7 linked regions of the Homo sapiens genome follow. The protein of the gene in region 6 purifies or fractionates together with the protein of the main gene of each other region. This does not show direct contact. Each region holds a gene or a part of one and is shown on either strand. Other genes may lie near its edges.

Region 1 (4,362 bases), on a different chromosome or scaffold from region 6:
TTTGCTGTTAGCCCAGATGGCTTTGTGTGTGGTGAGTATAAGTATTGCCCTTGCCTTTTATTTATTCTTCTTTTTTCCCCCTCCCATTTATCCAAATAATGGTTTTGAATAGATTTATGATCTCTTTATAAAGCTTTTATTTCTGCTGAGGTAGAGGAAAATGGGTCTATAGTTTGCTGATTATTTTAATTTCACAGATGGGAAAGAGAGTTTTCTAAAATTGCTTCATCTTTGTTTTGGCATCAGGATGGTGCGGTGGAATGAGAATGAAATTGGATCTTGGGAGAATGGAAGGGTAATCTCAGCCCTTCTACTTAACTTAAATTCCCTAAATATTAGTCTCTGCATCCATGAAATGGGGACTCTCCTTTCTTCTCTTCCCAACTCTGAGGCTTGTTGGGAGGTTTACATGAAAGAGAAAATTATTAATGATTTATGGGGTGCTAAAAAATTAACTATTGGTCGGTAAAACATTTACAAGTAATAGGAAATGTGAATTTATTATAAATAATTTTAAGGTCCATTGTTTTAGCATCCAAGAATCTCAGCATTAGAAATCTAGTTACCTGAACTTTACATAGCTAGTTAGTAGCAGATCTGGATTTAAAAGAAAAGTTTTCATCTCTGGTGTAACTTTCTGTCTATTACATGATGCTGCCATTTACTATTAGCTGCCATGGAGACCTCTGTAAAAATAAATATGTTTTATAAACCAATAAATCAGAATTTGCTTTTATTTAAGCATGGGTGTTAAAATATTAAGAACCTTCTTTTGCATTGGCATTTAAAAATTTACTTAAAACTGCTTTGTCCACGATATATATTTTTAGGTTGCAGCATTAAGCAGTGCCAGTAGTTTCTGGAAATAAAACCTCTGATGTAGCTTTTGGAACTGAATAAGCTTTTGGCATTCATCTGTAAGGGCCTGAACTGCTCCTTTCCCATGGTCCTTGTTTCATAGTTTTTTAGTCCCAAGATCTGATCCCCCTATTACGTTGAAACACATGTATAGTATCCATCGTTTTTTTCACTTCCTTGTGAATCTGAACATCGATTTATTAGATGAGAATTTCAGAATAGTACAGAAAACACCTCGATTACAATATGCAGACATTGAAAAATAGCAGCCCTGGAGTTATCAAAGCATCCCCTATAACCCATTCAATACACATAAAAAGTTGTCTTTTCAAATAGTAGCACCCAAATGGTACGCTTTGGTAGATCTCAGATGTTTCCTTCTGGGTTTAGATCATGGCTGAGAAACTGAAGTTCAAAAAGGTAACTTTTCCAAAATGTAACAGAGAACTAAAAATAACTGTTAGAATGAAAGAGTTGCTTAGCTCTAATTATAATGTAGCTTTGACAGGGCAGCGCGGCGGCACGATTGGCCGCTCAAAGCTCCAGGCTGAAGCCAGTGTCTTACAGTTTGTTTTACAGATGCTTTTTCTTTTGCTATCAGCTTTTTTTTTTTTTTTTTTTGCCTCTACCTAAATTACTGTTTTTAAATAGTGGTTCTGTTTTGGTAAATGAAGTGTTAATGGCTGTCTTTGTTGATTAATCATGATTGATGTTTGATTTCCTAATTTTGCTGCTCATTATCTGGGGAGAACATGGGAACAATTGCAGTTTCTGATAGTAGCATTCAAAAATGATCCCTGAGCCTGGAAGTTTTTAAACTGCTTTCTTCTTCTACTTATAGAAAGCATAAGGGATCAGGAATAAAGTGTGGGTTTTCCGATAGCTCCAAAATAACAGTCTTTTCTCAGGTAATAGTGATTGATAAATAGATCTGCATCTGTATTCGAGATGAATGAGTTACTTTATAAATACTCTCCCAGTGTATCATTTCAACATGGGGACGGCTAGTCCATCTGGAAAACATACACAAAGGGTAAAACCTAAGCCACTGTTTTTGCATTTCTTGGTGTTCAAATTTGAGTAGTATTTGGACTCTTGAGCCTTAACATTGTTTTGTCTCCTCCTCTCCATTTTTAACAGATGATTTTCCCAAACCCCAGATCACGGTTCAGCCAGAAACACAGTCGGCAATAAAAGGTTCCAATTTGAGTTTCATCTGCTCAGCTGCCAGCAGCAGTGATTCCCCAATGACTTTTGCTTGGAAAAAAGACAATGAACTACTGCATGATGCTGAAATGGAAAATTATGCACACCTCCGGGCCCAAGGTGGCGAGGTGATGGAGTATACCACCATCCTTCGGCTGCGCGAGGTGGAATTTGCCAGTGAGGGGAAATATCAGTGTGTCATCTCCAATCACTTTGGTTCATCCTACTCTGTCAAAGCCAAGCTTACAGTAAATAGTATGTGATCTGACTTTTCCTTTAGCATTTAAAGATACCTTTTAGAAATAGAAAGCACCTGTTTTTCTCTCTTAATCTTAACCCTGTCTTTTCTTCTCACAGTTCCCCACCTGACTCTTCCTTTCCCTACCTTTCATTCCACAAAATTAAGATTCTTGGTTATTTGTATCTAAACCTGCAATTATGTTGAAGACGACACCGTACTCAGTGTGGTGAGTAACACAGAGATGAACCAGACATGTTTTTGCTCTTTTTTTTTTCTTTTTCTTTTTTTTTTTTTTGAGACGGAATCTTGCACTGTCACCCAAGGCTGGATGACATCCTGGTTGCAATCTTGGCTCACTGCAACCTCCACCTCCCAGATTCAAGCAATTCTCCTACCTCAGCCTCCTGAGTAGCTGGGATTACAGGCGTGCGCCACCATGCCCGGCCAATTTTTTGTATTTTTAGTAGAGACGGGGTTTCACTATATTGGTCAGGCTGGTCTCGAACGCCTGACCTTGTGATCTGCCCACCTTGGCCTCACAAAGTGCTGGCTGGGATTACAGGTGTGAGCCACCGTGCCCAGCAATGTTTTCCTCTTTGAGAGTTTACAGTGTAGTATACTGATCTGGAAGGCTGCAAAGCATCATGCTGGATGCACACTGCCTTTAATTCAGAGATCTGTGTGTGAATCCTGCCACTCCTGCGTGATTTTCAGCAGGTTGCTTCACTTCTCCGCCTCCAGTTCCACATCTTTCAATTAGGGATAATAGGACCTGCCCCCTAGAGGCATTATGCTCATTTAGTGAAATAATATGTGTAAAGGATGTAGCAAAATGGCTACAAGGTAGTGCTCAGTAAATGCACTGTTAGCCACTGTTAACAGAAGTCTATTCTTGTTTGCTTTGTGTGGTAGGTATACAGTTTTACAGTAGGATCCTTGCCACTTTATCATTTAACTATCTGTATCTGCCGTGGTAGAAGATTTTGAATATGATTCATTAATGCATTCACTCAGCAAATGATGGCTGTGGCCTGGCACATAGAACAGTTTTGAGTTTAAATTGTAGGGCAAAACATGTATCTTAAAAGTCACAGAATGTTAGAGCTACCAGGAGAGACTTTAAAAAAAAAATAGATGAAGTGAGTGGTCAGGGTACAAAGAGATTAATTGATACACCCAAGATCTCACAGTTGATTGTTGAGGAAACTAAAAAGTGGCAGAAAATAGCAGGAAGACCTTCATTCTGAGAATCAGATGACCTCTGTTTTATCCTGACTTCATTGTTTCTGTATCTGTAACCTTGAGCAAGCCTTTTAATCTTTCCATCTCAACTTTAGTTTCCTTGACTTGAAATTGGAATTAACCCCTGCCCAATCTATGTCAGGGACAATCTGTAAGTATCAAACAAACAAACAAATAATAAAAAGGAATGCAAGTGAACCTGTAAGACTCCACTGTGCTAATGCCTATATTGTTTCTCTGATTTCAGTGCTTCCCTCATTCACCAAGACCCCCATGGATCTCACCATCCGAGCTGGGGCCATGGCACGCTTGGAGTGTGCTGCTGTGGGGCACCCAGCCCCCCAGATAGCCTGGCAGAAGGATGGGGGCACAGACTTCCCAGCTGCACGGGAGAGACGCATGCATGTGATGCCCGAGGATGACGTGTTCTTTATCGTGGATGTGAAGATAGAGGACATTGGGGTATACAGCTGCACAGCTCAGAACAGTGCAGGAAGTATTTCAGCAAATGCAACTCTGACTGTCCTAGGTGGGTGAATTTGTTAAGATTCTGTAGTATAAATCAGTCTTGAAGATACTAGCTCATCCAAGGTCCCTAAGTATCAGAAGTTGTGAGAGTAAGAGATGAAGATGTATGGGGCATTGCCTTTTCCTAGAAAGTATTAATGCAAATGGCCTCTTGAACACTTTGAAGTCAGGGATTGCATGACATCCTCAAGTCTGGCCACTGAGGTGAATCCCTGCCCCCTCCATCCTGAAGAGAGGGGCCGAGGAAAAGTTGGGATGCTTTCCCTTTTATGGGGGATCACCCTCCT
Region 2 (4,362 bases), on a different chromosome or scaffold from region 6:
GGGGCACTGTTAGAGCAGTGGGACTGTTCTGTATGGTTCTGTAAGGGCGGATACATGTCATCATGCATTTGTCAAAACTCACAGAGCACACCCTACTGCGAGTGAACCCTAATGTCAACTACAGGCTTTGGGTGATAATGATGCATGGATGTTGGCTCATCATTAGTAACAAATGCACCACTCTCGTGCAAGATGCTGATGGAAAGGGAGGCAGGAGGCTTATGGTAACTCTACTTCCTGTGTAATTTTGCTGTGAACCTAAAACTGTTCTAAAAAATAAAGTCTATTAGACAATGTTTACTTTTTGGAAATATCCTTTTGGTATTGTGCAAATAAATACTTGGTTGGCTATGGAGAATATAGAAAAAAATTTTTAAAAAGAGCAGATAAACACTGAAGCCAAGCTTAAAATTTCCTACATAAGTACTAACAGGCAAACATCTGTTTTTCAGGCAAAAAAGCAGATAATAAAGTTATATGTGTACCATAATCCCAATCTTGTGTAACAAACAAAAGAAACAGATATAGAAAAACACTGGAAGGGATATACACCAAATTGTTCACACTGATTTTATATACAGGGTGGAAGGATTATGGATATTTTCTTTTCATTTCAATGTTTTAATTTTTTCCAATTAAATTTCTTGCACGAAAAATAAAAGCAAAAAGATCATGCAGTTGTCTTACTGTTATTTTTTCATCTTGTTAGTGTGTAAGCTTGGTGAAGACAGGAACAATAACTTGCACATCTGTTTCTGCATTAGGGATATGTACACGCCATACTGGACAGGGCTTTACAGTTCTCAGAGTGTTCTCACCTACTGTGGGGCAGGTAACACGGTGGAGCAGGCTGATGGTACAGTAGCCCCCCAATATACACACATTGGATTCCCCATAACCTGTGAGTAGTAGGGTGCACTTATATATGTATCTATACACACACACACACACATATAGTTTTTTAAAAGAGTAAATATTACAAGACAAAAGATGCCATTAGGTTAAGGATCTTGAAAAGAGTAGAAAGAGCTGTGAAGAGGGAGGCTGAGACTGAGGTGATGCAGCCACAGCCCAGCAATGCTGGGGCATGCACTGGAGGCTGGAAGGAGCAAAGACCGGATTCTCCCCCAGGTTCCTAGAGGGAGTGAGGCCCTGCTCAATTTTGGACTTCTGGTCTCCCCAACGGCAAGAAAATCAGTTTCTGCTGTCTGAAGTGGCCAAATTTGAGGTAATTAGTTATGGCAGCATCAATAAACTAACACAGCAGGCATTCCCATTTTACTAATGGCCAATCTCAAACATAATTCTGTGCTTAATCGTCTTACAGCTATTAGGAGGCAGAGAAAGAATTCAAACCCAGATCTTTGACATCCAAGTGCAGAGCAGTATTCTTTCTATTGCTCAATATATTCTAGAGTATTCATTCAGTTGAGTGGTTAATTCTAACAGCTAAATGAGAAAAATCATACAAAACAATTTTTGTGGGAATTCTGAAAACAAGACAATTTGTTGAATTATTTTTAAAATTATTTATTTTTAAATGTATTTTAAATGTTAGCCTGAGCATGTGCTATAAGACAGAAAAAAATCTAAGAAAATGTGGCACCATCTCTGATATGCTTCAAAATTCAAGTGATACGTTTCTATGTCCAATTTCTATTAACTTCTTATTTGTTCATGGACTAATTTCCCTTTGACTTTGCTAATTTGTTTAAAATCTTGATTTGATTAACTTGACCAAATTAATCTCTTTTCTAACCTTAAGATTCTAAAATCAGAGTTAGAGTGAGATGCCCAACCACTTAAAAGATAACTTATTCTTTACCTGGAATAAATGAATATTTTGCTCGAAATCCCAGTCCTTCAAGCTCTTCATCAGAACTAAACTTAATCCACATGAATCTCCCTGTTGATCTAATTAATGGAGGGCTTTTCACGCCACAGTAACGATCTATAAGAGGAGAGAAACCAAATGGCCCATCTCGAACTTCCAAGTGATCAAACCGACACTCAAATGATGGTTCTATATAATAATGTTCATCAAAGGTCAACTCTATTCTTTGACGTGGAGCAGCTAGAAAATAAGAGTAAGCAAATCAGGACAACACAAACAAGAAAGAATATAAATGTATTGACACAAATGAGAAAAGCAGAATAACTGTTCTGCTAACTGCTTCATAGACAAAGGTCTTAGTGAGAATTGCTATACAAGTCATGATAAATGTATCTTACATTAAAAATAATGCTACTCTGTAGAACTATAGTAATCTTTTCCATTGGCATATGCTATCTACTAAATTAAATATTTTTGAGTGATTCAAACTGAAGAGTCAAGAAGCTAATACTTAGTTCAAGATACAACGTACCACAATACACAGAAAAATAAACAGAAGAAATGAAAAGAACTCACTTATGTGGACATAAATTTGAATTAAGCCTTATAAGGGATGCCAGTAAGTTTAAGTTTCTTATCAGAGAAAGAAGTTTTTCATACATACTAATGTACGTAGTTGAATTATACTTTGGGAGATTCAAACTTCCCCTAACATTTCTGCTAGTATCTTGTTAATGTATTCAATATGCAGAAATACTTATCATTACTACAGTTTAATTCAAATACATGTTTAAATTTCATTCAAACTGGTTTACATAGGTCATTTTACCAACATATTTAGTTTTACAATAAAGTAAAAATTCATCCAATAAAAGAAATCGTTCAAATACCTTCCAAAATGTAGATACACTCCTTGTTTGGTGGATATGAGTCAGGATAATTTGGCGAAGCAAAATGACCTCCATTGCTGGTTCGAACCCAAATGCCACACTGGGTTGCAGGAATATGCTTGATTCCAATATTTTGTCCATCTTAGGGAAAAACGGCATTTAAAACACTCATTACAGCAAAAGAGAATCATTCTTCTCTTTCCCCCACCACTTTCCAAACGATTGCTCACTCTATGCTACATATATAAAATTTTCTAAGAACCACTGTCAAATTTAGCACAATAAATTGAGTACAGAAGTGAAAGAGAGGGAGGGAAAACTTGCTGGGAGAGGACAAGTTTGCCGTGTAAGAGAACAGGGAAATAAAGGGCTTATAGGCACTTAACAAAGGGCAAAACCATATGGGGGAATCTGCTAAGTCAGTAAGATGCAATACAATTCAGTTCTAACCTAAAAATAAAGGCATCCCAGGAGCTGATCTCTGATATGGGGCCCTCAAACTTAGTTTAACACAACAGTAAAAGATGATTCAAAGGTTAGAGGGATTTTAGTTGAAGACTGTAGACTAAATACATGCACGTAGCTGAGCTCCTTCCTCAAACTCCACTTAAACAGCAATAAAAGGATTTTTAAAAGGGTATAAACTCTTAAACAGAGAGGGGTAGATATAGCAGTAACAACTGGCAGTACCAGGAAGTGGGGTTGGGGGTGGTGAGTGAAATTGGGCTTTTTAAAAACACGAGGCTAGTTAAAAGTCTGTTTAGAATGAGTTGGATTTTCAGTACCCTTTCCTCCTCCACAAATCTAGCAGCTCTACAACCACATCAGAACACTAAAGGTGATTTCTTTGGAGAAGGTAAAACAACAGGGTTACTGGACTAGGGGACACCAGGAACAGTTGAGAACGAAAACAGGGAGACGAGTGAATGTTAGCACATGTCCCAGCCTTCGTTTCCTGCTTAACTCCCACAAAGGCCTCCTGGTCAGATATTGAGCCTTTAAGCAGGAAAAGAAAAGATTCTTCTCTGGGAGTCGAAACAGCCCCTAGGAAAGGCTTGATGCAGATGCAGGAGTTCCCCAGTGTCAGATCTGTCAACAGTGAGAGCCAGTAACTGATCCTTGCCCACACCTGCAGACAGTTAACGATCAGTTTTTAGTGCCCCTCTTAAAATATGAGCCCTCAAGGATCACCAGACATTGGAGGAAAATCTCTAATATAAATAAATAAATAAATAATAATAATAATAAAACTGGAGAAAAGCAACTCTGAGGAGATAAAGACTATGCAAGAAAAATATTTAAAAACCACCACCACCACAAAACAATCATTTAATATCCTGAGAAAGAAAAGCAAGTAAATCTATAAGACAAAAACAAAGATACTGTACAAACAATATTATATTCAGAAAACAGAACCAAAAAAGCTTCCAAAAACAGAAGAGATGAAAAAATCAGCAGAACATTTAGAGCAGAGTTCAGCAAACTATGACCCTGGGCCAAACATGACCTGGAGCCTGCTGTAAATAAAGTTTTACTGGAATATACCCATCCCCATCATTTGTGTGCTTTTGTTCCAGGACAGAAGAGTTGAGGAATTTGAAGAGTTGCTTCAGAGACTGTAGGACCTACAGCGCCTTA
Region 3 (5,069 bases), on a different chromosome or scaffold from region 6:
TATTAATATTAACCTGTAGCTGACCACTGATAACTAGCATTGCATTCCTAAGAAAAGGCAATACCACTTCCTGTACTGGCTTTGACTTTCAATTAAAACCATGTAATGTCAAAACCAGTGAAATTACTATTTAATTTCATGGCCAATTGGACCAGATAAATCTGACTTGCTACTTGATATCATCATCCCTTTGGGTTGTAATGGACAGGAATGAAGACACTCTTGTTATATGCAAAAAAAATATTAAGTATTTGCAGACAACATACATTTAAAATCATTTTAAAACTCTATGGCTGTAACAGGACCTTTTCAATCTCTAGAAAAATTAAATCGTGTACACACAAAGTTTAATAGTCCGTTAAAAAGTGTGAAAAATTGAAGCTTGTAAGGAAACAGTCCAGAACTACCAACCCAAATAAAAATGGCACTTTCCTGCTAACATCTACACACTGGTATGTTCGTTTTGGACAGCAACAATGTGCATTGGGGTGGGGGGTGAGGGACAGGAGGAGAAGGGTCATTTACATATTTCTCAATCCAAGTATATGAATTTAGAGGCCTTCCTCAAAAATACATGCACTCCTAAGCCTCCAAAGTCATGCTGCTATATTTAAGCATATAAAAACAGTCAGAACATATCAGGCATGTTAAAAGACAAGAAACAAACCTTTTTTCTTTTGACATGTGTGTGTCTTCCTCCAGAAAGAACGTCACGCTGTACCGAGTCTGGACATTCACTTTCTTGGCTCCCCAACAGCTGCACCTTACAAGAAAGTAAGGTGTGACACTCAGAAATGGCCACAATGGACTCAGATGGGGTCTTTGAGTCACGACAGCCTTTCTCATTTTCCCCTGATGTTTGAAAAGGAGCCTTAAAATTTAAAGGGTTGTAGGGGTCATCAGAATTACAGAATGAGTTCCACAGTTTGAGACTCTCTGCTTCATCTGCACTAGATTCCCAGTCATCTTCCTCCCCAGAACTATGCTCAGGGGTCTCAGGAAGGCTTCCAGACTGGGAGGAATTCTCTAGATCAGACTTGCCAGACAAATCCTTCTCTGAATCAGAAGGCTCTTCAGGAACAATTCTGGCAGCAGTCTGAATTGTTGCTGTAAAGTTCTGGGGATTATAAGGATCTACACTGCAGAAAGAGTTCCAAAGGTGAAGCCCTTCAGGGTCTTGTTCAAGGTCTGAGTCTGACAGTGAGCTATCACTATCAAAACCATCATCCTCAGCTTCCTCATCCCAATCCTCACCTTCTGGATCAGAACTTGTTTCCAGGTCACTGGATGCACCTCCCAAAATATAATCTATCAGTTTGTTACTACAAGCTGGTCTGGCAGAAATGGGAAGGTCACCTTCTAGGTATGAGTAATCAACTACACTTATTCGGCCCTCTCCAGGCTCCTTTTCCATAGGTATCTCACTAGATGGACAGCCCTCAGAAGGGCTCTCTTCTTCCAAAGCAAGTGGAACCTCTGTAGTTAATAATTCTATTTTTTCTTCAGTGGATTCCTGGGTGTTTCCAGGAATGTCTCCAGCAGCAGGAACAAACTGTGTTGGGTTATCTCTGCAGTGTTTTGGATCCATCCGGAGAAGGCTGTGTTCCTCCTCCAGGCTGTGGTAGCCATTATCCTGGTCAGGGGTGGGTAAATCTTGCCCCTTGCTAGCCTGTTGAAGGAATTCCAGCCGTTTCATGCGAAGATGGTGAATTTCTGGTAGGCCTTCCGTAGAAAGAGGTGGACATCCCTGCCACGAGGCCGGAATGAGTTCTGCACTCAGCGGCTGGGGATGACAATGGTCCTCTCTCAGGCAGCTGCTCTCTGGGGTTAGTGTCTGGAAGCCGACTACCTCGCTATTTCCATCACTGTTCTGATAGCTGACTTCTAGCCTAGGAAAGCAGTCCAGGTAGGAAGGGTTCAGCAAATAGGATACCACACTGAAATTGTCTATGCGTTGAATGTTTAGAGGCCCAGAGGGCGAAGAGCCAAGTTCCCGGTTAGAGTACAGACGGGATTGAAGGCTACTGGGCAACAGCTCCACTCCCCACAGCTGCTGCTCTAAGAGAAAAGCCTGTGCTGCAGGGTCCAAAGCACTTCCCTTGGCCTTAAGCTCCAATTTTAGGTCTGGGGGCGAGTATTGCCAGTGGATCCCCTCCTCTAGCCAATCAAGGGGACTGGTGACCGAGGGGTCTGAGGAGTCGAGCTGCAGCGAACTCAAAGATTTCTGCGCTGTGGGGGCGGCTGGTTTCTCCCGTCCCTTCAGGGCTCTCAGGGCGCTGTAGACTCCAGCAAAATCTAGCCATCTGGTCGGAAACATTCCACCGAAAAGTTGGCTCCAAATTAGCACCTTCTGAAGCAATCCGGGGAGCGGCGCAAGGAGCTGGGAGAGCAGTTTCGTCCAGTAACTGACCCGAGTCTCGGGCTGGGCAGAGGAAAGCAGTGTGGGGTTCCCGGAGTTTTCCGGGCCAAGAGGCGTCGGGAACTTAGAAGAGCCTGCTTGCGATCGCCGAGGGAAAAAGGGTGGCCAGAACCGGAAGCCCGCCCGAGGGCCAAGCCGTTTCCGCGATCCGCCTGTCCCCGGCTCCATCTCCTTTTTCTTGACAGTCTCTCAGGTAGGGCCGCGGCGCTCAGCGGCTGGAGGTCGACGGGATTCGGAGGAAGCCTACAGAGTCTCGGCCTTGCCCAGCGGTGGCGTCGCTGCTCCAGGCCGATCTTCGAGCCAGCAGAAAAGCCACAGAGGGCAGCGAATGCGGCAGCGGGCGGCAGAACACAGGGAAGAACAGCCCGCGCAATAGGCGGCGACTGATGCGACTTCCATCCTGGCGGGGAAGGAGGTTCCCTAGTCGGCTCGACGCTTCAACACCATGGATAGGAGTCCCCCCACGGCCTCGGCGATGGTTTTCCGACTGACAGAGGGTTGAAAAGCCCCTGAGCAACGCGATACCGGAAGGACTGGGTAGGCCGGCTGGTGCGGTGGAAGCGAAGCCCAAAATGGCCGCAGGGCCCGCGCGCCGGCAGGACACCCCCCTAGACGCCGGAAGAGACGCAGGACTGTTGGGCGTCTACGTCCCTAGCGCCGCGCCGCCCAACGTCACTCGCAAAATCCCCGGGGGGCGGGCCTTTCCGCCCACTTCCGTGTGGCCGCCGATTGGTTTTGCCAGATTTCCCTGTCGGCTTCCTTACTCGAGGTAGAGCCGCACGGCAGCGTGAGGTTGCATCAGCCGGGGCGGGGGGGGGGGGGGGGGGGGGGGGGGGAATGCACGCATGCGCAGTCGTTTCTGTGTGGTCTCCTAGGAGACCGCCCCAACAGCCCTCTAGGTTAAAGGTCTTGGGGAGGGGAGGGGTTTTCAAAATAACCCGAGAATTTCCCGGAGGCGTTTTGATGGCCTAATACACACTGACGTGTGTACAGTCATCCCCTCTCATGAAATGGGGATTAGTTCCAGGACCCCGTAGACACCAGAATCCGCAGACGGTCAAGTCCCTTATGTAAAATGGTATAGTGTTTGCATATAACCTGCATACACCTTCCCAGATATTTAAACCATCCCCTAGATTAAGTATAATACCTAATACAATGCAAGTGCTATGGAACTAGTTGTTATACTGTATTTATTTGTATTATGTTTTATTATCTTTATTTTTCCCGAATATTTTCAATCCATGGAAGGTTGAATGCCCCGCGGGCCAACTGTAGGGTTATCGTAGTCTTAGATTTTTATTATTTATTTATTTGAGACAGGGTCTAGCTCTGTCGCCCAGGCTGGAGTGCAGTAGTGCGATCTCGGCTCACTGCAGCCTCAACCTCCTGGGCTCCAGTGAGCCTCCCACCTCAGCCTCCCGAGGAGCTGGGACTACAGGCTCGCACCACCACGCCCAGCTAAATTTTTTTTTTTTTTGAGACGGATTCCCACTCTGTCGCCAGGCTGGAGTGCAGTGGCGCAATCTCGGCTCACTGCAACCTCCGCCTCCCGGGTTCAAGCGATTCTCCTGCCCCAGCCTCCCTAGTAGCTGGTACTACAGGCGTGTGCCACCACGCCCAGTTAATTTTTTGTATTTTTAGTAGAGACAGGGTTTCACCATGTTGGCTAGGATGGTCTCGATCTCCTGACCTTGTGATCCGCCCGCCTCAGCCTCCCAAAGTGCTGGGATTACAGGCGTGAGCCACCGTGCTCGGCCAATTTTTGCATATTTTTATAGAGACAGGGTTTCGTCGTGTTGCCCAGGTTGGTTTCAAACTCAGCTCAAGTGATCTGCCCGCCTCGGCCTCCTAAAGTGCTGGGGTTACAGGCGTGAGCCACTGCGCCCAGCCTGACAGATATTTCAGGGTTCTCCTATTGTTCAGTACTATGTAGACCATCAACCTGAGATCTTATGTAAAAGTTGGGCAGTGCTGCGTACATACATGTCTGGTGTGGGGCAAACTAAACTCACAGAGAAGCAGCTCAGTCCCCAGAACTATTTACTCTCTTTTATGCTTCCAAGCAGGCAACATATTCAATTCATATTTATTAATACTTCCTTAGCAACCAGAACCACAGAATACAACAGCCAAAAAGGAAACATGGACCACTATCCTTTGAAAAAAAAAATGGCTGGTAATTTTAATTGCTGTATTTGATTATCTCTTGTGAGTTTGGTCTTAGTTCATTTCTTTATTTCTGCTAAAACTCTGTAATAGATACCCCTGAAGTCAAGTACCAATTACAGAGGGAGGGTGGCAGTTATGAGCACTAGGGACAGCAGAAAAATCTTTAGGGAGCTGGGAGGAGACCAGCAGCTCCTCCTGCCTTACTGGGCCTGTTCAAGGAACAACCACTTCTTTTTTTCTTTTTTGAGACGAGTCTCGCTCTGTTGCCCAGGATATAGTGCAGTGGTGTGATCTCTGCTCACTGCAACCTCCGCCTTCCTGGGTTCAAACTATTATCCTGCCTCAGCCTCCCTAGTAGCTAGGACTACAGGCACATGCCACCACGCCCGGCTAATTTTTGTATTTTTAGTAGAGACGGAGTTTCACCATGTTAGCCAGGATGGTCTCAATTTCCTGACCTTGTGATCTGCCCGCCTCA
Region 4 (4,362 bases), on a different chromosome or scaffold from region 6:
TTCCTGGATTTGAGAGAATATGTTGTTAAGGGTTTTGTTAAAAGCCTTAATTGTGTACAGCACTTTACATTGTAAGGTGATTAATTGCTGTGTCATAAGGCAGGGATTGGACAAATGTCTTAGGAGATTTAAACACAAATTACGTGTTTTGGCGGGGCTTTGTGTTTTGTAAACCTTTAGGTAATTCAGAATTTGACCACATATCCCATTTCTTGAGCACAGTATGATTAAGATTTTCCTTAAAATAACTTTACAAAATTTGTTAACACCCAAATTAAAGAGCAACTTCCAGTGAGGGTTCTTTTACCAGCGAATATCATTAGGTAGGAAAATTGAATTTCTGTCCAAGTGGGATTTATATATTAAAGCAGTGCAGCCAGTGATATATTTGGATATTAGGGTATTTGGCAAAGTCCCTCATGAGATATCCTTGAAGAATAGGACTTAAGAAATGTGGACTGGAGAATAATACAATTAGACTGATTTGTAATTGAGCGCCATAAACACTAATTGAATCCTTGTCAACAGCTGGGATGTAGCACTCTGCCTGTTTTTTTTTTTTAAATCAGTTGTTTGAATGAGGACACATAGCATGATGATGTTGTTGTTAATTCACAGATGATGTTAATCTAGTATCCACATTCCTGAAAATTGGATGGCAGGTTTATTTAGAAAACAAAATGATCTTGATGGGTTAGAATAGGACATCTCATTAACAATGTAACTTTTTTTTTTTAAATAAAGATGGGGTCTCACCATGTTGCCCAGGTTGGTCTTGAACTCCTGGGCTCAAATGGTCCTCCCACCTCAGCCCTCCTTAGTAGCTGCGATTACAGGTGTGCACCACCATCCCCATCATCCCCACCACATGATAACTCTTTTTTTTTTTCTGAGGTGGAGTCTCGCTTTGTTGCCCGGGCTGGAGTGCAGTGGTGTGATCTCAGCTCACTTCAACCTCTGCCTCCCGGGTTCATGCCATTCTCCTGCCTCAGGCTCCCGAGTAGCTGGGACTACAGGCACTGCCACCACGCCTGGCTAATTTTTTGTATTTTTAGTAGAGACGGGGTTTCACCGTGTTAGCCAGGATTGTCTTAATCTCCTGACCTCCTGATCCGCCCACCTCGGCCTCCCAAGTGCTGGGATTACAGGCGTGAACCACTGTGCCCGGCCGATAACTCTTAATAAAGTATAAATGTAAACTCTTTTCCTTTGCCTATTCCCAAAAAAGAAACTTGAAGAATACACTGGCCGGGTGGGATGGCTCACGCCTTTAATCCTAGCACTTTGGGAGGCTGAGGTGGGCGGATCACTTGAGCCCAGAAGTTTGAGACCAGCCTGGGCAACAGTGGTGAAACCCGATCTCTACACAAAAAAATACAAAAACTTGCCAGGCGTAGTGGTGCACGCCTGTAGTCCCAGCTGCTTGGGAGGCTGAGGTGAGAGAATCACTTGCGCCTGGGAGGTGGAGGTTGCAGTGAGCCAGGATTGTGCCACTGCATTCCAGCCTAGGTGACAGAGTGAGACCCTGTCTCAAAAAAAAAAAAAAAAAAAAAAAGGATACACCATACAAAATGGAGTTTCCAAAGCACATATTATGAATGACATAGATCATTTTCATTATATTTGAAAAAAGCAAGATTCAGAATTATATTCATGATTATAATTGTATTGACTACTATGTCTCAGTATTATTGAGACAAATCTCAATTTTGTGTTAAATATATATTAGAAAATATATAGAATAGTTCTAGATTGTATAATTAGGAATGGTTTTCTTTTTATTTTGCCTTTCTGTTTATTTCCCAATTTTCTACAATGAGCATGGAGCAAGGAGTAATAATAAAACACATTGAAGATAAAGTGTTTAATTTTTTTGATGATTTAAATGTGTAGCCTAAGGATAGTTAATTTATATTGTTACAGTAAAGATTTTCTCCTTCCTTTATTTGCCATGATAGAAAAGTCAGCATCAGCCATGGTGCTCTCTGCACATAACAGTCTGTTACTGTTTTTTTCCTCTATTACTAGGAATCCATTGAATCAGTTTTCATTTTTTTCCCCTTTATCAAAGGTTGAATTAATAAAAGGAAATTTACAAAGTGTTGGACTTACACTTCGTCTTGTCCAGTCAACTGATGGGTATGCTGGGCACGTCATCATTGAAACTGTGGCTCCAAACTCGCCTGCTGCAATTGCAGATCTTCAGCGGGGAGATCGACTTATCGCCATTGGAGGTAATTATGCTAATATGCATTATACTTTACCTTTACAGATAAACTACAAAGTAGGTGTGAGGTTTTTCCTTTCTTCCTTTTTCCTTATTTCTATAATATGCATATGTCACTTTTATAATGGAAATAAAGTAATAAACTTTATTATAAATAAAAATTCAAAGGAGGCCTTCAAAATACATTTAAAACATACATGCCATTTTAGTTCTAGTGTATAAATCTTTAAAATACTTTGTTTAGACCACTTTTATATAACCACTCTAATCCTTCCCTTCCCACCTTCTACTACTCTATTTATTTTTTCTTGAATGTGAAAGTAAGGGCAAATAAACAGGTTATCTTTCTGTACGACTACCACCATTGCTACTCTGAACCTAAAATTGGTAGTATTAGCACTACTGCCCCCATCACTTAGCACTAGATGATGAGCAGAAGAACCAACATTCCTTTTCCAGGAGGGCACATCTGAACTGTCCTGTGATCCTGTGTCATCTAAATGGCCAGCCATTTGTTAGTATGTTGTTGCTCAGAATTCAGCCCAAATCACTGGTGGAAAAATGTGTCACTTACATGCCTTCCTATCACTTGGATTGTTAACAGTAAAAACTCTCTGAAGATAGCAGGTTATTTGCTTGTATATAAATGTCTAAGCAGTAGGACTCACTGTGCACAGCAGTGAGGGGAAAGTCCAAGCCTTTTCAACCTTTGTAGTACCTGTCCCATCTATTCTAGGCTTGTTGAGAGATTTCTTGAACATATGGTTGGTCACAGTTGATCTGAAAAGGGCAATGTGATATTTTCTTTCACAGCTTAGACAATAAATAAGTTAGAACAGTTCCCAAATCAAGGTGCAGTTGTCCTTGGTTACATGTCAAAGAAACTCTGCCTTTGATTCAAATCCACCTTGACAATAAAATAATGAAAATTATTTAGTTGCATATCTGGGAGCCCAATTAAGTCAATATTTTCACATGGGAATCTCTGATCATGGCATAAGCAGTGCTTCTCAGACTTTCCCATGTATGCCAGTCACCCAGACCTGATGTTAAAATGTGCATTCTGAATCAGGAGACCTGTAGTGAGGCCCAAGATTCTTCATTTCTCACAGACTCCTCCCAAATGATGATGCTTATGCATAAACACTTAGGGAGGCATAAAATAGACATCATTCATTATATTAATATCATTTAATATTTTGGTTTTAGCTACAGGATAAAATTAATTTTTTCGGTCTTTTTTGGGGGTTGTGTTTCAATTACACAAGTAGTAAATACCTATTATCAAAAATAAATTAATTAACCTAAGCGATATAAATGTATACAGAGTGAAAAAGCAAAAGTCATCCCTTGACATCTAACATTTGTTAATTACAATAACAACAGGCCGGGCTCAGTGGCTCATGCCTGTAATCCCAGCACTTTGGGAGGCCGAGGCGGGTGGATCACCTGAGGTCAGGAGTTCGAGACCAGCCTGGCCAACATGGTGAAACCCATCTCTACTGAAAATATGAAAATTAGCTGGGCATGGTGGCAGGCGCCTGTAATCCCAGCTACTCAGGAGGCTGAGGCAGGAGAATTGCTTGAACCTGGGAGGCAGAGGTTGCAGTGAGCTGAGATCATACCATTGCACTCCAGCCTGGGCAACAAGAGCGAAACTCCATCTCAAATAATAATAATAATATGTATTAAGATGAAGGGCAGATACAATACACATTCATTGTTTTAAAAAAAAGAAAAACCTTGGAACATAACAGAAAAGCTTTTGTATGTCTCTTTTTTTGTTTTTTTGTTTGTTTGTTTTTTTCTGTACATAAATATATGCCTTTCCCAATTTTTGTTTAGGAAACAAAAATTTCTAAACTATGCATTTTTGTAATAGTCTTTATTTCTTTTAGCATGTTGTAAACTTTCCCCATGTCAACAGATATTTTTCAAAACATTTTTATATCGCTTTGATTCATTTATATGGGTATATAATTGATGATAGTTGAAATAAGATTGGCAAAATATTATATTTGAAGCTCAAAATGGAATTCATTTTACTGTTTCCTCAGCTTTTGAGTGTGTTTGAAATATTCCAAAAGAAAAATCCAGACTTGAATGGTGTATTCCTGAGAGAGAGTTGCAATGGC
Region 5 (4,362 bases), on a different chromosome or scaffold from region 6:
CTTCCCCCTTGTGGCCTCAGAGACTTGCCTGCAGCAGCCAAGGGAGCTCTGTGCCAACATTCAGGCTGCACACAGCCAGAGAGCCCTCTGCTCAAGGATCAAAATGCCCCAGAGCTTTTAACTACAGGAAAGCCAGAGAAATCTGCAGACATCCAGGATTTACTTTGTTTTGCCTTTTAAAGTTACAGCCTCTGATCCTGGTAGCTCCTCCTGAAGCACAGTCTCCTTCAAGAAGCTATGCTAAGCATTATCTCTGCTGTAAACACTAATAAAACTCAGCTAAAAGGTCTATCAGCCATATCTTCAATAAACAATTATAATTAAAAACACCCTGGGCTGGGTAAGATTATGTTCTACAAAAGATAAAAACAAGAGCTGAGGGAAATAATTTCTAGATTCCAACTCAGCAATCTCAAAAGCAAGTCATTTGTATAGTCAAATTAAAGTTCTTTTCCACCCATCTCCAATGCCTTTGTCAAACAAACAAACAAACAAACAAACAAACAAACACAATACAAAAAAAAACCCAGGCTGTCCTATGGTTGCTACCTTTGGAAACAGAGAATACTTTTAACTCTTCTTAGAATTCTTTTGCTACTTGTGGGATCCTGCATATAATTTCAGTTGCATTAGTTATGCTTTAAAGGAGCTAAAAGAAACTACAGGAACTAAGAATGGTTCAGTTAGGTAATTTCTATGTAATTAGAATTATTTTGATTACCGCCTTTGGCCTCTGGCTAACTTAATTGGTAAATGGTGTCTTCAAGAAAACAATAACAGAGTAATGCTTTCATTTTATGGATGTATTTTCAATTTCTCTTAATAGCTGCTCTGCCCCATCCCCCGTGCCAGCCTTACCCAGTTAATTCTGAGCAACAGTATTTTTCTGCTCCATTACCCCTTCCATCCTGCCTCTCAAGTGTAATTAAACTCTGCATTTCAGCAGATGGATTGTACCTGAAAAAGCACCAGGATCACACAGTACTACCTGGGGACTAGTTGATGGCAAGCATTCTTTTTTTCTTACAAAAATTATGATTATAATATCATTTTCTTGGAGTTGAAGTTTGGAATTGCAAACATTTCTTCCTCAGTCACCCCACTGGATAAGCCAATAAGAGCAACTCAACTCATAATAGCAAATAAAACCTTGCTCTTCCAAGGTCTGGAGGCTTTGCAAAAATAAGGATTTTGTGTCAATACTCACTGTGTTTTTTCCCAGAGATATGAGATAATTTTCTGATCATCTGAGCTCTTGCTGCCATCCAGGGTTGTGCTATCCACAGGAAGGGTCAGCTCTTTATCTGGGCCTGCATCTGCCTGAGGAGGCTTATTGTTTTCTGGAAGACAAAGAGTTAGAGGTCAAAAGCAGCCAGTCCAGGTGGGAAAGGAGAGGAACCAATTGGGACACATGTTCTGGAAGCCATGGACTCTGCCTCTCAGGCCACAGAACTGTCAGATACTGTGGGAGATGTGGTTACCGTCAGGGAGCACACAATAAAGAATATAAGGCTGAAACATATCAAGCAATTCTGACAGAAACATAGAACATAATGAAGTTATAATGCCATACTAAACTTGAACTCTAATGCTAAGGGAGTTCAAATGAAAGGATTTGAGTGACAAGACAGGGCTGTCCTGAGGAAGTCAGTTTTAAGCAGGCCCTTCAAGGACGTGGTATTGGGTTGGTGCAAAAGTAATTGCTATTGAAAGGAATGGCAAAAACCGCAATTACTTTTTAGGATTTGGGATGGCATAAACTCTATTTCCTAGGTCTCTTTGAAGGTACCAACAACAAGCCAAGGGAAGGGCACAAGCTGAGGCTGGGAAGTATCCTTCATCTCTAGCTATGAAGAAAGCACAAGGGGAAGGAACAATAGAAGTCACCAGAGGCTCTATGGATCGGTGCCTTCTGCTTCTACCCTCATACAGCTCAGAACCCAACACTCTTTTCCCCCAAGGTTAAATGGACCCACCAATAGAAGAGCCTGAACCACAAGGCTGGAGCTTACCAGGTTGCACAATAACAGTCACTTGAGCAGTGGCCTGCTGTCCTATTGTGTCAGTCACTGTGAGCTGGTAAGTGTAGTCTCCTTCTTGCATCGCAGAGAGCTGTAAGGTTGGTGTTCTAACACCCTACAAATACAAATACAGAAGTGGAAAAGTGGACTCCAGGAATCACATCACACAATAATTCCGACTCTGGTAAAAACGATTTAGTTTTCTAAACCAAAGACCTAAGATGGTACTGGGCTATTACGTACCAGTTCAGCATGTGAGTGAATATGGAGTCAGATATCATGAGGCACCTTGCTAAGGGTTTCCCCCTTCAAGGAAACAACCCTCTCTGACACAGCAGCAGTTTCAAATAAAGCCAGAACTCTCATAAGAGAGGGCAGTATTGGGAAATGTGCAGAGATTACCAAGGCCAGTCTCTATGACTCAAACCAGAAAGAATACCGTGAACAAACAATAAATGACCCAGTTTTAAAAACACTGTTTAAAAAGATCCTCTTCCTACTGAAGCTACACAGTGCTCCTAACAAAGCTGTCTCAGTGAAACATGGCAGCAGCTCAAGATGCTGTATAACACCATACTGTCTCCTTCAGGTCTGTACAGGTTCTGCAACAACCTAACATAACATTTAAACAAAAGTCAGGTAAAATGGAGGCTTTAAGGGAGGCCTTAAAACTGAGAAATATAGAATCTTGAGGGACATTATAAATAATTTTGGGCAAACTTCCAATGCAGGAACTTCCTGTAGAGCAGTAGGCAAAAACTAGTAGCCCATGGGCTGAATCCAGCTTGCAAATATTTTTTTTGGCCTGTGGTGTCTCTCATATTGGAAATTTTCACATAAAGGTCTCAATTTCTTTCTTCTCTTGAAAAGCTGGGTTATCAAGCAATGTTAGGACCATCCTTCCATGTGGCAACAACCAGCTGGACCTGAAGAGTAGATGACTCCTTTAGTCAGGGCTTAAGTTCAGCACAGCCACCATCCAGTTTTCTTTCTTTATGTTACCTGCCTGGTGACAGATCTAGTCTCTCTTCTTAAGCATCTCTAGAGAGAAGATACTCACCATCTAGCCAATCTACTCTAACTTGTTATAGAGCTCACTAAGATTTGCACCCTTGTAGCTTCTAAATAGTTTGACTCTCTGGAGTCATCCAGAACAACTAACATTTCTCAGCCTTTTCCTCTAATACTAAACATTTAAGATAATTTTTTTTTTTTTTTTTTTTTTTTTGAGATGGAGTCTTGCTCTGTCACCCAGGCTGGAGTGCAATGGCGTGATCTCGGCTCACTGCAACCTCCGCCTCCTAGGTTCAAGGGATTCTCCTGCCTCAGCCTCCCAAGTAGCTGGGATTACAGGCGCACGCCACTACGCCCGGCTAATTTTTTTATCTTTAGTAGAGACGGGGTTTCACAATGTTGGCCAGGCTGGTCTCGAACTCCTGACCTCATGATCCGCCCGCCTCAGCTTCCCAAAGTGCTGGGATTACAGGCGTGAGCCACCATACCCGGCCAAGATAAAGATTTTTGCTACCACGTTAATCAAAGGCCCCTAAAGCTTTCTCAGTTTGTTTGGAGGTTTCTAAAAATGCAGTCCAGCAGCTCTACTTCTCTTGGGCAAGAAAAAATAGGAACCATTCCCTCCTACCTGCATCTCCACCACTTTCCCTTTGCTGCTTGGGCTGAGTGACCACTCATAGCTGGTGATGCCATGATCATCAGTGCTCTGGTTCCCAAAGAGGGTGATGGAGTTTTGGGGCAGGGTGATCACTTGGTTGGGGCCTGCGTTGGCCACAGGGGGGTAATCCACAGCTTTGTTCACTGTCAGGTTTGCAGTAGTAGAGTTGGTAGCTCCATCAGAGTCTACTACAGTCAAGCTATCAGGGCAGAGAGAGGAGTGTGATCAGGGACGGGTTTAAGGAAAGAGGAATAAACACTAGAAGACTGAAAATTAAGGCTAAGAAATACCAATGTGGCAAGGTTACCTATTCTTACCCACTTCTATTGGAGAAGCAGAAAGTACTACTAGAAGCTAACACTGACTGAAGTTTTATGATGTGCTAGGCACTGCTCCAAGTTCTTTATATCTCATTAAATCCTCACAACAATTCTATAAAGTATCATCCTCATTTTACTCCTCACATATATGAGGAGAAAGACAGAGAGGCCAGGTGCGTTGGCACACACCTGTAATCCCAGCACTTTGGGAGGCCAAGGCGTGCGGATCACCTGAGGTTGGAAGTTTGAGACCAGCCTGGCCAACATGGTGAAACCCCATCTCTACTAAAAATACAAAAATTAGCCAGGCATGGTGGTGCAGGCCTATAATCCAGCTACTTGGGAGGCT
Region 6 (3,918 bases):
TGCGCATTCCAGTGAAATGCCTTTTGCTTGGCCTGAAGCAAGTCCAGAGGGGAGGTGAGCACAAAACTAGGTGCAGTATTGTCGGGGGGCACCCAAGCAGGGACACCAAGTTCTCCAAGAACAGTGAGTTGGAGGAACAGGAGAGACATCCCTCACCTGCCCAGGACCAGCGCAGAGCCCCACTGGAAAGAGATGAACACAAACAAGAAAGCGATTCCACGAACACCAGAGCCCAGCTCATTTTTACAGTGCCAGGACACAGGTCTTCTGGAGAACAGTGGTGAAAGTGATGCAACTTTTTAAAGAAGAATCACATGTTTGGAGAGTCACAAGATGGAAGATGGTGAATAAACAGCCATGTTCTCCTTCCCTTGTGAAATGAACAAAACACAGTACAGTAGGCTTGTTTTCATAGTGAACACACCAGCTTATCAACAGGATTTCTTCAGCTTACTGTAAATGCTATGGGGGTGTGTATGTAGAATACAAAGTTCAGTCAACTTTGAGTTTTGAGGAAAATGTAATCAAGGCGGCGGGCACGACCTTCGCAGCCCTTCCAGGGATTGCTCAATGCACGGATTCCGCTGGCACTGGCATGAAAGAGCCGATGGTTGCTGGGATGGCTTGGCCCCAGTGCAGGTGGCGGGGCTTGTGCCAGGCAAGGGGACCCCAGTGCTGCAACTGGAGCCCCATGAACTGTCCAAGTCTCAAAATGGTAACAATGACAGCCACAACCACACACTCGCCCAGTGTGCTCTTGCCCACCAAGCCCTTCCACACTCACAGCGTCAGCGGAACTTCAGTTCCCCTCCAAGTACGTGCTATTATCATCCCTCTTTTCTAAGAAAGGAAACTGAGGCATGAACTGTGTGTGGAACTTGCCTGAGTCTACACTGGGATTTGAACCCAAGCAATCTAGCTTGACCGTCCTTTGGTTATTTATTTATTTATTTATTTATTTATTTTTGAATCACAGATCTCTGACATAGGATGTAGTAGAGCAGAGAAGATTAAAGAAGGATTTTAAGGAGAATTTAAGAAAATAGAACAAAATGCAGAAATAAATCTTAGAAACTGAAGCAATGGATAGAGAACAAAAGAACAAGCCTATAGAGAAGAAAGTAGGCAATATTGGGGTGAGAGATGGGGGACATCGCATTCCCTGGATTTCCTTGTAGAGGGAGCATATTAAGGATGAGAAGGAATATTTTACCAAACGGGCTGGGGTGGAAGAGAGACGGGAAGGCTACCCCCACCATGAGTGGCCTCTACCTGATGCCTGGGACAGCTGGGGCTCCTGACTTGGGTCTGCTGGGTGGGGAAGGAGAGGGATTGAGCTGAGTTTTTCTGCATAACAGAGCAGAGAGGCCTTGGGGTTTGCTCAGACAGAGCGGTGGTCCTCCAGGACAGAGGAGGAGGGCAGAGAGAAGAGAAAAGGAGGCCCCCCAACACCCCCCACCCAATGAGTCAGAGGAAGAGGCTCAGCGGGGAAGAGAAATGCCCAATGGGGAAGCTCTCAGCTGTGTGCAGTGTGTGTGTGTGTGTGTGTGTGTGTACCTCTTCCTCCTTGTCTCTAAGGAGTAATACATCATTCCTGAAGACGTTAGTGTGGATGATTTTTGCTCTTCTCATTGAACTTGAATTGCAGCTCATTTCTGAATCTCAGTTGGTGTGGAGGGAGAGGGAGGCAGACCTCAGGGCTGGAGGCTGGAGGGCATTTTGGCTTCCACCAGCTTTGGGGAAAGACAGCCGAGAATATGATTCATGGAATTTGAAAACTGAGACTCTGTGGAGGACTCAGGGCAGTGTGGCTTTAACGACCCCATCTACTTGAGTGCAAAGCAGAATGCAGCCTGCCTGCTTTGAGTGCTGAGACTTGAGAGCAAAGGGGAGTAAGGAGGCTGCTAGGGGAACCCGTGGAAGTACAGCGGCCGCAGGAAGTCAGAAGGAAGGGGCCAGGGGAGAGAAGGAGGCCCATGCCTAGGCCAAAACTGTGTCACTCCAATGCAAAAAATCATGTAGGCAACACAAACACTAAAAAGTGAATAGTCAACTGTTATAGTTCTTTGTTCTACATGTTGCTAAACAAGTGTTTTGGATGATTGTGTCTTCACTAAATTTCTGACTTTCAACAATTGGTTCTGTGGGGTTCTTGGGGAAGCGTGCATGGACATTGATGTGACCGCCAGGACCAAGCAGGAAAGTGTCCAGGAAGCTACTCTAGGAGCTGCAAGCTGAGGAGCTGGAGGGTTTTTTGGTTTTGTTTTTGTTTTCTACTTTGAAACTTTTTATTGCATGTTCGTATCTCCGATCCTGGCCTGGCCCTGGGAACCCCCAAACATGCCACTTCCCATGTGCCTTGAGCAAGTCACTTAGCCTGTCTGGCCTTGGTTTGCTTGCCTGTGAAGTGAGGATGATATCGGGCATCCTAAGGTGGATGTGAGGATGTAATCTGAGAGCGTTAAAGCACCCAATAGTGCCCAACTAAATGGTAGTTGTCTTTCTTTATTGTTATCCTCTCTGTGTTTTGCCCATGGGTTGGAAATGCTCTTTAACTTACCTTGGGAAACCCAGTTGGGCACAGGCAACATTTGCGTAGTGACCCTTCCAGTCATCGGAGCACATGGTCTTCCACGAAGCAGCTGTGAACACCTGGAGCACGGCATTCTGACCACCCACCCGGACTGGCCGATGTGCAGAAAGAAAGGCTTATTAGTGGCCAGTGGAACCCTGAGACCATAGGCAGGGGTTTCTCCACAGCCAGCTCAAACCCCTCCTCTGCCAAATCTGACCCACTTCTTGTCCACGGCAGCCTCCCCATCACAGAGCAGTGACTCTGGATCCCTGAGACTTCTCGCTGGTCTCATCTTATTGCTTATGTGGTCTCCCCAAGAGAGCCAGAGCTCCATGGAAGGCCCTCCCTGACCCCCCAGCCCAACATGTCTTTGGGCAAACGCCAGTTCAATCCCAGCTGAAGACATGACCTAAAAATGGCAATGACTTGGACCCATTTTACAGATGGGAAGGGTCAGGGTTGGCTTCTGCTGCTTCCTTCTGTTTCCCCAGGGGAAGAGCCATGACCTTACCACAGCGGTACTCGTCCTCCCCGTCTTTGCAATCCGAGACTCCGTCACATCGAGCTATCAGCTCGATACACTTAAAGGATGAGCGACATCTGTACTTCCCTGAGCAGTCGAAGTGGACTGGGAAAAGGGAGGAAGGCAGGAATTAACCAACAGCTCTTTCAGAGTGCAACACTAACAACTGTCCCCCTGCCACACAGTGCGGAGCTGGCCCGTGAATAATGAAACCTGTATTGAAATTGCGTCCCTGTCAGCAGCCTGTTTCCTGCAGCCCAGTTTCTGTTTTGAATTCCAAGGGGTGGGGCTGCTGTGCCCCACTTTATCTCGCTATGTGGCCTGGCCCAGGAACCACAGTGCAAGGTGAATTTAGACTCTGGAGGTCTCAAGGTCAAGAGAGAAACTGCATGGCGGGGGGCCGACCTGCTGAGCCAGCCGAGCAAGGAGTCCTGACTGAGAACTGCTCGGCCTTCCTGGTTTCTCTTACCGAAGGCAGAAAGTGAACGAAGTGTGGACCACACAGTGGGGCAGGTGGCGAATTGAACTGACCTGTGATTCAGGTATTTGAAAGAAAAATTGTTCCCTATTAGAGACCCTCCATCCAAATGACCCACTTTCTCAAAAGCCACATGCACCTTATTGTAAAAACAGCTGGTGCGCCTGCATTGCATGAATAGGTCTCTTTGTCTTCTCCCCGCTGCCCCGGTCAGTGCCTCCCTCCCACCTGCAGGATTCTATTTCATCAGCTGCCTTTGGCCACTCCTAACCGGGCAGGTTCCTTGGTGACAAAGCCATGAGCATGGCCAGCAGCCCTTGCGGCACCCCAGACTGACTTTAC
Region 7 (4,362 bases), on a different chromosome or scaffold from region 6:
AGAGTGCCTGGCACATAGTTGCTCAATAAATGGTAGTTGTCAGAAAAAAAGGCTAGGAGATAGATGAAAATGTGAATAAGTGGTTAAATCAGTGTTTCTCAAACTTAAGCAATTACGTATCTTCTTCTAATTCTTTCTTGTAGGTGTGAACCCCACAAATTAAATGTATTTAGGCATTATTACTGCTTCACTCAGTCAATGTTTGTTCGGACATACCCACGTGTTCATCATTTCCTAGCTCAGATTCCTTACTGCATTTCAGAGCTTCTTTCTGAAATAATTTTGCTTTTTCCTAAGTACCTCTTTTAGAAGTTATTTCAATAAGAATCTGTTAATGATAAATTCCGTTTTTTTGGTTGGTTGGTTTCCTTTCGTTTCCTTTCTTCCCCTCCTCCTCCCACTCCGAGATAGAGTCATACTCTCTGTCGCTCAGGCTGGAGTGCAGTGGCATGGTCATAGCTCACTGTATCCTTGAACTCCAGTGTTCAATGGAACCTCCTGCCTCAGCCTCCTGAATGGCTAGGAGTAACTGTGACTACAGGCATGTGCCATCACATCCAGCTAATTTTTTGTAGAGATGAGGTCTTGCTATGTTGCCCAGGCTGATCTCAAATTCCTGAGCTCAAGCAATCCTCAATGATCCTCCTGCCTAAGTCTCCCAAAGCACTGGGATTACAGGCTTCTTCCTTTTTTTTTCCCTTTCTCTTTTTTTTTTAAACTGAAAAGTCTGTATTTAGCTCTTGGTCTTAAAAGATGGCTTAACCTAATATACAATTTTAGGATGAAAGTTATTTTCTCTCAGGACTTTGAAGATATTCTTTTTTGGTCTTCTGGCTGTTAAAAAGTCTTCTGTCAGTGTAATTGCCTAACACTCCTTTGCAGGTATTCTATTAGTTCTCTGACAATTTTTAAAATCTTTCTCTTTGTCTCTATTGTCTTACACAGTTTCACTACACTAATTTTTTATGTATCTAGCTTGGGATATGTTAGGTTTACTAAATCCATGGATTAGCATCTTTTTTTCCCATCATTTCTAGAAAATTCTCAGCTATTAATACCCCGAATATTGCCTCTCCGCATTCTATCATCTCCTTCTACAATCTGATTAGATGTATGTCAGTTCTTTCAACTCTGGCTTACATGTTTCTTTTTTTTCTTTTTTTTTTTTTTTTTAGAGAGAGTCTCACTTGCCCAGGCTGGAGTGCAATGGGGTGATCTTGGCTCACTGCAATTTCCGTCTCTTGAGTTCAAGTGATTCTCGTGCCTCTACCACCCAAGTAGCTGGGGCTATAGGCATGTGCCACCACACCTGGCTAATTTTTGTATTTTTAGTAGAGATGAGGTTTCGCCATGTTGGCCAGGCTGGTTTCGAACTCCTGACCTCAAGTGATCCACCTGCCTCGGCCTCCCTAAGTGCTGGGATTACAGGCATAAAACACCGTGCCCAGCCGTGGCTTACACATTTCTTAACCTTTTCTATATTACCTTTTTTTTTTGGTCTGTCTGTACTGCATTTTGAGTAATTTATTTAAATCAATCTTCCAATTTACTAGTTTACTCATCAGAATGTCTAATCTGCTGTTTATCTACTGAGTCTTAAATATAAATATTATATACATATTATTCATATTATATAATATTACATATTATATGATTCTTATAAGTTCTGAATTTTTTAAATTTATTTGGTCATCTCTTGTTTCTTGTTCATGTTTTTGGTTCTTTTACTTGTTTGAAAATGTTAAATATACTTACATTATATTCCTATTTCCCAATAAATGAAGTTTTTCAGGTGAACGTTCTGTTGACTGTTATTTCTGCTGATTCTCACCCATAATGTTTTGCTCCCTCTGTGCTCTGATTTATTTTTATTATAATTTCTTGTTCACTAGAACTTTATCTCTGGTAATTTTCAGACACTTGGGTTAAGGGTCCATTTCTCTAGAGAAATTTTTTGCCAGATGCCACGGGCACTACCAACCCAGAACAATTTAAAATAAATTCTCGGCTGGGCCTGGTGGCTCACACCTGTAATCCCAGCACTTTGGGAGGCCGAGGCGGGCAGATCACGAAGTCAGGAGACCAAGACACGGTGAAACCCCATCTCTACTAAAGGTACAAAAAATTAGCCAGGCGTGGTGGTTTGCACCTGTAATCCCAGCTACTCAGGAGACTGAGATGGCAGAATTGCTTGAACCCGGGAGGCTGAGGTTGCAGTGAGCCGAAATCATGCCACTGCACTCCAGCCTGGGTGACAGTCTCAAAAATAAAATAAAATAAATAAAATATATTAAAGTAAATTCTCAGCTTAGGGCTTGAAGGACCACATAGGTGATCTGAATTCAGGCCCAAACCCATATAAAGACCAATTTACGGAATTTACGGTTACAATCCTCAAAGGCAGCACTAGCTTTACTTTTTTTCCCTCCACTCCACTCACAGTCAAGGCCAAACATTTTTTAAAATCTGACATTTTTAGCTGTGGGAAGATTTTAAATAATGATCACTAAGTCCAAATACCTTTAAATATATTACTAAAGCATTATTAAAACAAGACGTTTGTTAGTTATCATGTAAAAAAGGTGGCTATATTTATTACCGGGACACTTAAATGCTTAATAGTCCCAACTAATATTCAATCAACTAATAGGTACTTTGTGAAAGACAATATATTGGGTGCAAACAAGAGCAGTGATATCCCACACCGGGAGTAGTTTATTATCAACTAAGCTGTAGGGCAGAGGCAAATCATGATCCTGTATCTTAGGACCGAAAATAGGGTTCTACTAAATCCTATCAAGTAAAGACCAGTTAGATAGTTTTTAACAGAATTAAAATGAATGATATAAGGATATGGTATTTATGACCTCAGGAAAGAAAACGATAATTAGAAGTACAGTGTTCCCTTCAACTGTTGGTTTCAAACGAGAAGTCACACTTCAGATTTAATATCAGGAGCTACAGGTGATGGGTGCATCAAAATCTCAGAAATCACCACTAAAGAACTTATCCATGTAACCAAAACCCACCTGTACCCCAAAAACTATTGAAAAATAAAAATTAAAAAAAGAAAAAGAAGAGAACAATAAATAAAAGCAAGAAGTTTTCAGTCAGGCCCCGCTGACCCACGACCCACCAACCCACGAACTGGCCCGGCCCTCACGTGCACCATGTCTGGCTCCTCCAGCGTTGCCGCTATGAAGAAAGTGGTTCAACAGCCCCGGCTGGAGGCCAGGCTCAACTGCATAAAAGTTTCCCAGGCAGCTGCAGACTTCAAACAATTCTGTCTGCAGAATGTTCAACATGACCCTCTGCTGACTAGAGTATCTTCAAGTACAAATCCCTTCAGACCCCAGAAAATCTGTTCTTTTTTGTAGTAAAATGAATTTCAAAAGTTTCCCAAACCACTTCTTATGATCCAGTGGATATTCAAAAGAGAGCTAAATTTGAAGCCTGTACAAAAGCTTATCCCTGTAGCACATGTGCTGTAATATACGAACTTCTAGTTTCATCAGTCTTTAACATCTACCTCTCTGAATTTCATGAATTTCTATTTCACAAGGGTAACTGTTTTATCCACACTGGCAGCAGCATACAATAAAACTCAGTATGAAAAAAAAAGTTTTCTTTCCCAGAAAAAAAAATATGTATATGATATATATATCAGGAGCTAGGAGGAAAGTGTTTTCTACTTCTTTCTCTTTTTTTTTTGAGATGGAGTTTTGCTCTTATCGCCCAGGCTGGAGTGCAATGGCACAATCTCAGCTCACCACAACCTCCACCTCCCAAGTTCAAGTGACTCTCCTGCCTCAGCCTCCCGAGTAGCTGGGATTACAGGCATGCACCACCACAACCGGCTAATTTTGTATTTTTAGTAGAGATGGGGTTTCTCCATGTTGGTCAGGCTGGTCTCAAACTCTCTACCTCAGGTGATCTGCCCGCCTTGGCCTCCCAAAGTGCTGGGATTACAGGTGTGAGCCACCGCACCCGGTCAAGAGTTTTCTATTTCTAATCACTGCCTAGACTATCACAACAGATAATCTATGCAATAATGGGTTTCCTCACAGCACTTTTAGAAGCAAAGTTTTTATACTCACTTGTAAAAGTAAAGTTCACAAATACAGCTCACAAAAGCCAGAAGACATCGCAAAAAGTAAAACACAAGAATCTAAAAGAAACCCAGAAAAAGAAAACAGAAGTCACAGATATGAGCTAGAAAAACTCATAAACATGAACCACTCTCATTTATTGTCAATAACACTGTAAATTGGTATAATTCTTTTGAAAAGCAACATGGATCAAGAATTTTCATATCCCTTGACTCAATATCAGTATACCTACTTCTATCACTCCAGCTGGTGG

What was found.
Region 1: the proteins of TMPRSS3 (region 6) and LRIG3 purify together in Homo sapiens (affinity purification with mass spectrometry; 2 studies listed by BioGRID and IntAct, with this or other methods). This does not show direct contact.
Region 2: the proteins of TMPRSS3 (region 6) and NETO2 purify together in Homo sapiens (affinity purification with mass spectrometry; 2 studies listed by BioGRID and IntAct, with this or other methods). This does not show direct contact.
Region 3: the proteins of TMPRSS3 (region 6) and PPP1R15B purify together in Homo sapiens (affinity purification with mass spectrometry; 2 studies listed by BioGRID and IntAct, with this or other methods). This does not show direct contact.
Region 4: the proteins of TMPRSS3 (region 6) and PDZD8 purify together in Homo sapiens (affinity purification with mass spectrometry; 2 studies listed by BioGRID and IntAct, with this or other methods). This does not show direct contact.
Region 5: the proteins of TMPRSS3 (region 6) and KIAA0319L purify together in Homo sapiens (affinity purification with mass spectrometry; 2 studies listed by BioGRID and IntAct, with this or other methods). This does not show direct contact.
Region 7: the proteins of TMPRSS3 (region 6) and ALG9 purify together in Homo sapiens (affinity purification with mass spectrometry; 2 studies listed by BioGRID and IntAct, with this or other methods). This does not show direct contact.

The regions. Positions count from the first base shown.
Region 1 is NC_000012.12:58,878,538-58,882,899, reverse strand, and holds part of LRIG3 (leucine-rich repeats and immunoglobulin-like domains protein 3 isoform 2 precursor), read left to right. Parts: coding exon 1-31; intron 32-1,998; coding exon 1,999-2,319; intron 2,320-2,421; coding exon of another isoform or gene 2,422-2,492; exon of another isoform or gene 2,493-2,627; intron 2,628-3,794; coding exon 3,795-4,076; intron 4,077-4,362. UniProt on the Homo sapiens protein: May play a role in craniofacial and inner ear morphogenesis during embryonic development. May act within the otic vesicle epithelium to control formation of the lateral semicircular canal in the inner ear, possibly by restricting the expression of NTN1.
Region 2 is NC_000016.10:47,126,500-47,130,861, forward strand, and holds part of NETO2 (neuropilin and tolloid-like protein 2 isoform 1 precursor), read right to left. Parts: intron 2,866-4,362; coding exon 2,725-2,865; intron 2,075-2,724; coding exon 1,826-2,074; intron 1-1,825. UniProt on the Homo sapiens protein: Accessory subunit of neuronal kainate-sensitive glutamate receptors, GRIK2 and GRIK3.
Region 3 is NC_000001.11:204,408,825-204,413,893, forward strand, and holds the start of PPP1R15B (protein phosphatase 1 regulatory subunit 15B), read right to left. Parts: upstream 2,994-5,069; 5' UTR 2,588-2,993; coding exon 668-2,587; intron 1-667. UniProt on the Homo sapiens protein: Maintains low levels of EIF2S1 phosphorylation in unstressed cells by promoting its dephosphorylation by PP1.
Region 4 is NC_000010.11:117,288,058-117,292,419, reverse strand, and holds part of PDZD8 (PDZ domain-containing protein 8), read left to right. Parts: intron 1-2,071; coding exon 2,072-2,234; intron 2,235-4,362. UniProt on the Homo sapiens protein: Molecular tethering protein that connects endoplasmic reticulum and mitochondria membranes. PDZD8-dependent endoplasmic reticulum-mitochondria membrane tethering is essential for endoplasmic reticulum-mitochondria Ca(2+) transfer.
Region 5 is NC_000001.11:35,452,350-35,456,711, forward strand, and holds part of KIAA0319L (dyslexia-associated protein KIAA0319-like protein), read right to left. Parts: intron 3,893-4,362; coding exon 3,664-3,892; intron 2,137-3,663; coding exon 2,013-2,136; intron 1,341-2,012; coding exon 1,208-1,340; intron 1-1,207.
Region 6 is NC_000021.9:42,385,843-42,389,760, forward strand, and holds part of TMPRSS3 (transmembrane protease serine 3), read right to left. Parts: intron 3,308-3,918; exon of another isoform or gene 3,204-3,307; coding exon 3,087-3,203; intron 2,685-3,086; coding exon 2,561-2,684; intron 1-2,560. UniProt on the Homo sapiens protein: Probable serine protease that plays a role in hearing. Acts as a permissive factor for cochlear hair cell survival and activation at the onset of hearing and is required for saccular hair cell survival. Activates ENaC (in vitro).
Region 7 is NC_000011.10:111,861,084-111,865,445, forward strand, and holds part of ALG9 (alpha-1,2-mannosyltransferase ALG9), read right to left. Parts: intron 4,169-4,362; coding exon 4,098-4,168; intron 3,616-4,097; exon of another isoform or gene 3,110-3,615; intron 1-3,109. UniProt on the Homo sapiens protein: Mannosyltransferase that operates in the biosynthetic pathway of dolichol-linked oligosaccharides, the glycan precursors employed in protein asparagine (N)-glycosylation.